Linked DNA regions of Homo sapiens. The protein of the gene in region 2 purifies or fractionates together with the protein of the main gene of each other region. This does not show direct contact. Each region holds a gene or a part of one and is shown on either strand. Other genes may lie near its edges. The genes, in order: SYNJ1 and HOXA2.

Region 1 (3,196 bases), on a different chromosome or scaffold from region 2:
TTTGCCCCCCACTTGTTCCTTCTACTTTGGGTAAGAAAAATCATTCATATTTCTTGTATTATTTTCAAGTCAGCATGTTTTTGCGTGAGGGCCTCTCTTATGGAATAAGTGCATGGACTTTTTTTTTTTTTTGAAACAGAGTTTCGCTCTTCTCGCCCAGGCTGGAGTGCAATGGCACAATCTCGGCTCACTGCAACCTCTCCCTCCCAGGTTCTAGTGATTCTCCTGCCTCAGCCTCCCCAGTAGCTGGGATTACAGGCCTGCACCACCACGCCCAACTAATTTTTTTTTCATATTTTTAGTAGAGATGGGGTTTCACCATGTGGGCCAGGCTGGGCATGGACTTTTTAATAATGATTAGTAATCTCGGAAAATCTTCTTAGTTTTAGAGGAAGCACTATCTGGAGAAATGAAAATAAGGTCTTGAATTAAAATATCTGATTCGGCAATAAGGGTTAAGCTTATTTTGTTTGAACGTCACCAAACTTGTGTATGTAAAGTACAAGGAAAATGGCTGAGAAAAATTCTTCCCTTTCTAACAAAGAAGTCAGCATGGTAAAGACAGATATATTTATTTCATATGACAGCACGTTTCACAGGATATGTACAGAATGTCTGTGTACCACTGACTTTAATACTGTACTTCTATAAAGTTTATAGTTATAAATATTGTATGCCACATAAGCAATAAAATTCTTACATATAAACAGCAATCTAATATAGAGAACACAGAGTTCACAAAGAGATCCTTAGTGTCTAACTTCTGCTCTGCTTTTAACAGAACTAGTAAATATTTAATAATACATAGAATAATGGCTAGTTATTTGCAGCATACCTTTAACTTTCATAACTTTGTGCATTTTCAGCAACTTGCCAAGTATAATTTTCCTGATAAAGGCTGGGCTGCTGATATGTATATTTTAGACAGTAGTTTATATTCAATAGGAAACATTGCTCACAGATCTGCAATTTGCACTAGTGAAGTTTACCTAACAATGAATTATTTTGCTAATGGAGAGCAAATACCATATACACTAGTCACATGGATGTTAAAGCCACAGTTTCAACAAGTTAATTCACATTTTGAAGCAACTGCTTATAGTAATACTGCTGTTTAAGACGCTACTGCTGAAATGATTAGAACCTCCAAAAAGCACAATATAAAACTCACAAGAGTTATTTCTAACAGCAAATCTTGGCTGTTAACAGAGAAGATTACTTCTATAAATATAGTATTTTGATAACATTTGAGCATTTAGAAAAATGCTTTTTTTCTAATAGATTTGCTTTATAAGTGCAGTGCAGTTTGCTGTGCTTTTAACATTCTACATATTCGTAGCCATGAACGCTATTTTTTGATATTCCCTCAATGTACATCTTTAAAGGTTAAGTGTGGACATAGGAATTTAGGTGGACATATACAACTCTTTATATAAAAGGAATGTTAATGTAAGTCTTAATGGGTAAAGATGATTGTAACTGAAACTGACAAAGAAACAACTATTGCTCAAGGAGTTTTCTGATTGGTTTACTTAATGATATCAAAATACTACATTCTGTAAAAATTCTGTGTACTTCTTCAAAAAATTAATAAAAGCGGGATCAGTTGCATATTGGCAGTGCAGGAGACAAAATCCGCAGCTACTTTGAGGTATAGCCTCTAAAAACTTAAAGCAGCATCATAGATGTGTTATGTAGCCTCGTAAGAGGGGGGAGAACACACACTGGGTATATTCCCAATTCAAAGCACTCAGGGGACAGCTGCTTTCCCTGCTAAAAGCAAAGTTCCAGAGCAAAAGCAGCAAAAAGAAAATATGGGAGGGATATGGGCAACGTATACTCGAACGTACGCAGAGAAGAGAGTACGGTTAGCTCTAATATTTCTCATTGAACTTGGTGGTATGTGCCTTCCCTGCATATAAGGCCATAGTGCTTTTTTGGGAGCGCTAGAATATCCATCCACTTGACAGTGACCACAAAATAGGCTGTTTCCAGCTGCAAGAACCTCCTCCTGGAGAAAAGCGTATGAAGGTGCTGGAGTGAAAAGTAACAAGGTTGTGTGTATTTGAAGGGGTTGGGTGTGGAACGGTAGAAAATTCTGATTCTGTGGTGAGATTATTCTAGTTTTGAAAACAAAATTAATGAAAGGTCCAAATTACATTTGCAGCCATCTTTTTGGTAATGTGATATTGAAAAAGGGACTTTGTTGGAACTTTTAGGTATAATTTGGTCTGAGTTATAGCCTAGAAATTAAAGTATGAATTGTAAAAATATGTAAATGTATACAGAAGTACATGTGTTTGTATGTATTATATATGTACACATACCTATACTTTTTTCCTTTAAAGCAATGCCTTTCAAAACTCTGTTCACTGTAACCTTGGCAGCTCTTTGGTAAATACTCAAAGATACCAATTGTTAACAAGTATGAGAGGGCTGGTGGAAATGTCAGCTGAAAGTTGGGTGGGCTTTTTGAGATTCTTCAGAAGACTGACCGAAAAGTTTCTGAATAAGGACTGTTTTCTAAAGTATAAGTACTTTTTATGGCTACTACTGTCTCCTATTCATCCAAAGAGAAATACATCAAAACTCCAGTTAACAATGAGAAGGGTTTTTCCTTATTTCCAATATACACATAGTCCAACTCTGTACACATCAAATAGTGGTGTTTTGTGAAGATATCAGTGCACTTACAATGACTTATTGCACATAATGAAATACTAATGCCCAATTCTCTTAGCTCTATCCTGCCAAAAGCAAGTACCCACTGTTTTCTATTGCATGGCGTTATCTTTCTGTAAAGTCCAGTGTGGGTGAAGCCTTAGAGGCCAAGGTCGTGAAAGGATCTACTGGAGGGCTGGTGCCGGGCGGGAGCAGAGGGACAGGAGGTGGAGGAGGTCTTCTTGACGGCAACACACAGAAGGAGACATTTGTACCTTTATTCCAGTCATCATTCAATGTCAGGTTGGAGCCAGAAAATGAACTTGGCTGATTACCCAGTAAGTCTGAACAAGCTGACTTTGACTTCCCTTTCACACCAAAATCCTCTTCTTCCTCGAAGGTTACCCATCCTTTCGGGTTGCTAATTTTTAATGTAGACTGGCCCTGTAGATCAAAACTGTCCTTAAAGCCATCAAGTGAAGATGAAGCCCTGCTTTTGTTATGACCAAGAGGCTGCAGAGAAGGGAAAGGACTG
Region 2 (4,327 bases):
AAGTGTATAAACAAATGAATTGTTGATAACTTAGTTATTGACCTGGAGACTGGTAGCTTATTAAAGAAACTCCGTGTTACTCATTCCTGGAGTTGGGGGTTTCTGTAGGCACTTTATTTCTCCACTTTCAAGAGCTTGGGCTTGGCCCAAATCTTAGACTGTCCAATTCTGCCTCTATTACCAATTTAAATCTATGGCTTGAACCTGTGCACTGAAAATCAAATCCTTTAAAAAGAAAGAGGAGAAGAAGAAGCAAAAAAGAAAGAAAAAACACTTATTAGAAGCCCTAGTCATTTTTTGGCTTTCTGTTTTGTTGCTGTCCATTGAAGACTTTGAACATGCCGCCTTAATAAATGTATTAAAATTGAAAAAAGAGGATAAATTGTGACGAATTTTATTTACGAAGTTAGACTAAAAGAAGAAAAAGAACCCGTTATGAGCCTTGAAAAAAGAGGGGGAGAAAAATAAGCTACTTATAGCAAAGGAGAATTTATTCTACAAAAAATATGCATGACAATGCATCCCAATGTAATACAAAAATAAAAAGAAAGTGAAGATACAATTATATGATCACTTTCTTGCAGGCCTCATACTGCTCTCAGGAATCACATAAAGGGTTGTTGAGTTAGGTTTAAAACAACTAAAACTCCAAAATAATCTGTAAAAGATGGCTCTGTTTGAAACTGGGTCAGGGAATCACTAAACAGAAAATCCTCAACACTTAAAGGAGGGAAGGGGTAGGTCAAGAAGAAAATAAAAAATAAACTCCCAAATAAAAGAAGGCAAAACCACCTGGTCAAAGGAGTTTTTGTTTGGTGATGCTTTGTTTTGCTTTAATGTTTTTAGTAATTCAGATGCTGCAAGTCGATTGTGGTGAGTGTGTCTGTAAAAAAGTCTAAGCTGTCAGCTGAAATATCTACGGGACTGTCGAGGGAACCTGGCAAACTGGGTGAAACTGCATCTGAAAGCTGCAGGCAGGAATCTGTGGAGAAAACGCTAAAGTCCTGCAAAGAGGGGACCTCAAGGGCCTCAGGACTGTCATTGTTTAGGCCAGCTCCACAGTTCTGGCCCATTGTTGACAAGCAGTTGGGAACAGTGGGTGACTGGTGCTGAAAATGTTTCAGATTTTTCTCATTGCTGGTTAAAGGCGAGACTGGGAAACTTTGGGAGTCGCCATTGTGTCCATTGGGAGCCTGCTGCTGAGAGAGGGCATTTTGCTGAAAAGTGTAGCCTTCCCTCTCCAGAAGGGCCCCAGAGACGCTAAGGGCTTGCTCAAAGAGCGTCTTCTCTTCCTCGTCCTCCTCTACTTTCTCGGAGTCCTCAAGGCTTTTACATTTCCCTTCGCTGTTTTGGTTTTCCTTGCACTGGGTCTGCCTCTTGTGCTTCATCCTCCGGTTCTGAAACCACACTTTCACTTGTCTCTCAGTCAAATCCAGCAGCGCTGCAATCTCCACCCTTCGGGGTCTGCAAAGGTACTTGTTGAAATGAAATTCTTTTTCCAGCTCTAGAAGCTGTGTGTTGGTGTAAGCAGTTCTCAGGCGCCGCGATCCCCCGCCGCTGCCATCGGCGATTTCCAGGGATTCTGCGGAAAGGGAAACCAACAAGAGACACACGCACAGTTGGAGGTGGAGGGGTCCGAGCGGGGTTATTCCACTGGAGAATAAATATAGCAGAAAAGATCAACTGCAACAAAATGGCCGCCCCTGGATGCAGTAGAGCTATTGTGCTGCCTTTCCTGGGAGCCCAGCCTGGGCAGACCCCGTCTCCTCCATCTCTATCGAATTCATGCCTGTGGCTCCCCCCAACCTCTTCATCCGGGAGCAAACTTTATATTAGCCACAACACAATTTATAATTAATGCGTCAGCTGCTTAGCTGAGCAAGAGCGATCTATCACTCTTCATTACTGTCAAAAAGCCAAACTCTAGGACAACTAGACAGGAGGAGGTCAGTTCCAACTCAAATAAATCATCCCACATTACACAAGTTCGGGAAAGTTTCCCCCCACTTCCTAAAAATATATATGTCTCATTGTAGAGCGCAGGATCCCCTTTCCTCTCCATCAAACCCACTCCTGAACCCACAGGGGCAGGGACAAGGCAACCAAGCATCTCTCCCTCTCCTCCTTCTCTCCCAGCCCACTCTCCCCTCCCCCCACAGCCACTCTCGGGGCAGCCCGGAGAAGGAAGAGGGTCCCAGAGACCTGGGGCCAAGTCTTTGGACTGACCTTTGTGGCTGAGGCAAGCAGGGCCGGTGGCTGCGGCGGTGGCGGCGGCGGCGGCGGCCGGCAGAAGTGCGGTTTTCTTGGCCGCCTTCTTCTCCTTCATCCAGGGGTACTCGGGCGGCTGCAGGGCGCCGGCGGGCACCGGGCTGCCGCGGCTGCCCGCGGGGCTCGGCTTGGGGCGGCCGCCAGCGCCGTGGCGAGGGTGACTGCCGGGGTTCAGGCTGGGAATGGTCTGCTCAAAAGGAGGAGGAATCAGTGTCGAGTGTGAAAGCGTCGAGGTCTTGATTGATGAACTTTGAAATGTATCAGCGACAGGGGGAAAAGATGTCAGGCACTCAGCGAGCGACGGCTGGCTATTGATAAAACCAATCTCTCGCTCAAATTCGTAATTCATGGCCTTCTCCTTGGAGCCCCCTCAGAGAAAAAGTTCCCTCTTTTGGAGGGGCTTTGGGGGGGCAAGGCCTAGGAAAAAGGCGAGCGCAGAGGAAAAAAAATCTATCATAGAATATCGCTGCTAGGGTGTTTTTTTTCTAATTCACTGATTACAGCCGTATGGGGACCGCGCTACTATTAAACTATTGAATTCATGGAGACAAGGTTGAAATTGGACCGAATTGGCTGTCACATGATTGCTTCTGCCCAATGACAATTTGGGCTTTAATCAAAAGAAGCCACTGTCTGTTTGATTGATCCAAAAAAGTCGGGAAGGAACGCCTCATTGGGGGCCAGCGAGGCTTTATTTACACTTTTTTCAGAGCAAAAATACATATATGTTGGTGTGGGTGGGGATGTCCCGGAGTACGTGGGGGCGAGGGTGCCTGCGTGCCTCCTGATCTGCAAGGATCTATCTAGTGTGTGTGCCTGGGAGTGTGTGTGTGTGTGTGTGAATGTGCGCGAGTGTAAGCCCTGCTGTCGGTCCCGCCGGTGGCTGCCCTCTGCCTCCCCCGCACACTCCGCGCATTGTTTGGGACTGTCGGGAAGACGCCTCGCACCTCACAAATCATTTAAGCACCTCAGTCTGACGCCTGCAGTCATTAACAAAGTAATCCATTAATCTTCAAAGTTTTGACACCCGAGGGCCCTGCGTCCCAGCCACATAAGTTCTGTTAAAGCAGGAGAAAGGAGCAGAGGAAGAGAGGAGATGAGAGAGGGAGAATAAAGAGAGAGGGAAGAAGAGAGAGTTTGAGAGATGGAGAAAGAGAAGACAGAAAAGAGAGAAGAAAGGAAAGATTTTGGTTGGGAAGGGGTCTTCCTTTTCTTTCCCTTTTCCTCCTTCACTTTTCCTAAAAGCAGTTCCTGGATCTCAAAACTGATCTCTCTCGGTCTGTTTTCCTTCCTGTCTGTCCCTTTCCCTCTTTTTCCTCTTCTCCCCCTTTCTCCCTCCCTCTCTCTTCTGTCCGCCTCCCCTTCTCCCCTCAGCCTCTCGCCCCCCTCCCAGTGTCCAGCCCAGAGTCTGCGCCCCGGGCCCATTGTTAGCAGGCTATTCCACGGCAGCTTTGCATCTGGCTCCGGCGGGAAGCGGAAAACGGGAGGCGGCTCTCGAAGCTTCCCGACCTTCCTGCGCCATCAACTTCTCAGGAGTGGCTGGAGAAAGATGCATGTGCCAAGCGAGACAACAACCCCAGGTCCATGTGTCCAAATCCCCGTAGCCAGGGCGGCGGCCAGCCAAAGAAATGCCGCCCCGAGCAGGCGCGTGCGGCTCCTGGCATTCTGGGTTTCATACCCGTAGGGCTCGGGTGCGGTGAGTATTTCCGATTTCCAGGAAGTCTGTTGGAAGTTACCAGCAGGGAAAGAGAAGATGCTTGCTCCTCTCTTTCCCTCCCTCTCTCTTTTTTTTCTACCCTTCTTCTTGTCCTTGTCGCTCTGGTTGGGGGCTGGTTGGTTTAGATACAGCGAGTGCTCCCTGGCAGCCTGAACTGCCTCCCACACCTTCCTGATCCTTGGGCACCGGGGATGTTTGCTTCCGGGTTCTGTTGTGGGAAACAGCACTGCGGGGGAGAGGAGGCGACCCAAGGAGGAATTATAAAGGTTTTCGTTCTCCTTCATTATCTTTTTTCCAATTCGGAGACTTGAGACTGAGCGCATCTTGGACAGTGCTAGAGGG

What was found.
Region 1: the proteins of HOXA2 (region 2) and SYNJ1 purify together in Homo sapiens (affinity purification with mass spectrometry; one large-scale study listed by BioGRID and IntAct). This does not show direct contact.

What each region holds. Positions count from the first base shown.
Region 1 is NC_000021.9:32,628,208-32,631,403, forward strand, and holds the end of SYNJ1 (synaptojanin-1), read right to left. Parts: coding exon of another isoform or gene 2,788-3,196; 3' UTR 556-2,787; downstream 1-555. UniProt on the Homo sapiens protein: Phosphatase that acts on various phosphoinositides, including phosphatidylinositol 4-phosphate, phosphatidylinositol (4,5)-bisphosphate and phosphatidylinositol (3,4,5)-trisphosphate. Has a role in clathrin-mediated endocytosis.
Region 2 is NC_000007.14:27,099,884-27,104,210, forward strand, and holds HOXA2 (homeobox protein Hox-A2), read right to left. Parts: upstream 2,801-4,327; 5' UTR 2,618-2,800; coding exon 2,227-2,617; intron 1,583-2,226; coding exon 843-1,582; 3' UTR 471-842; downstream 1-470. UniProt on the Homo sapiens protein: Sequence-specific transcription factor which is part of a developmental regulatory system that provides cells with specific positional identities on the anterior-posterior axis.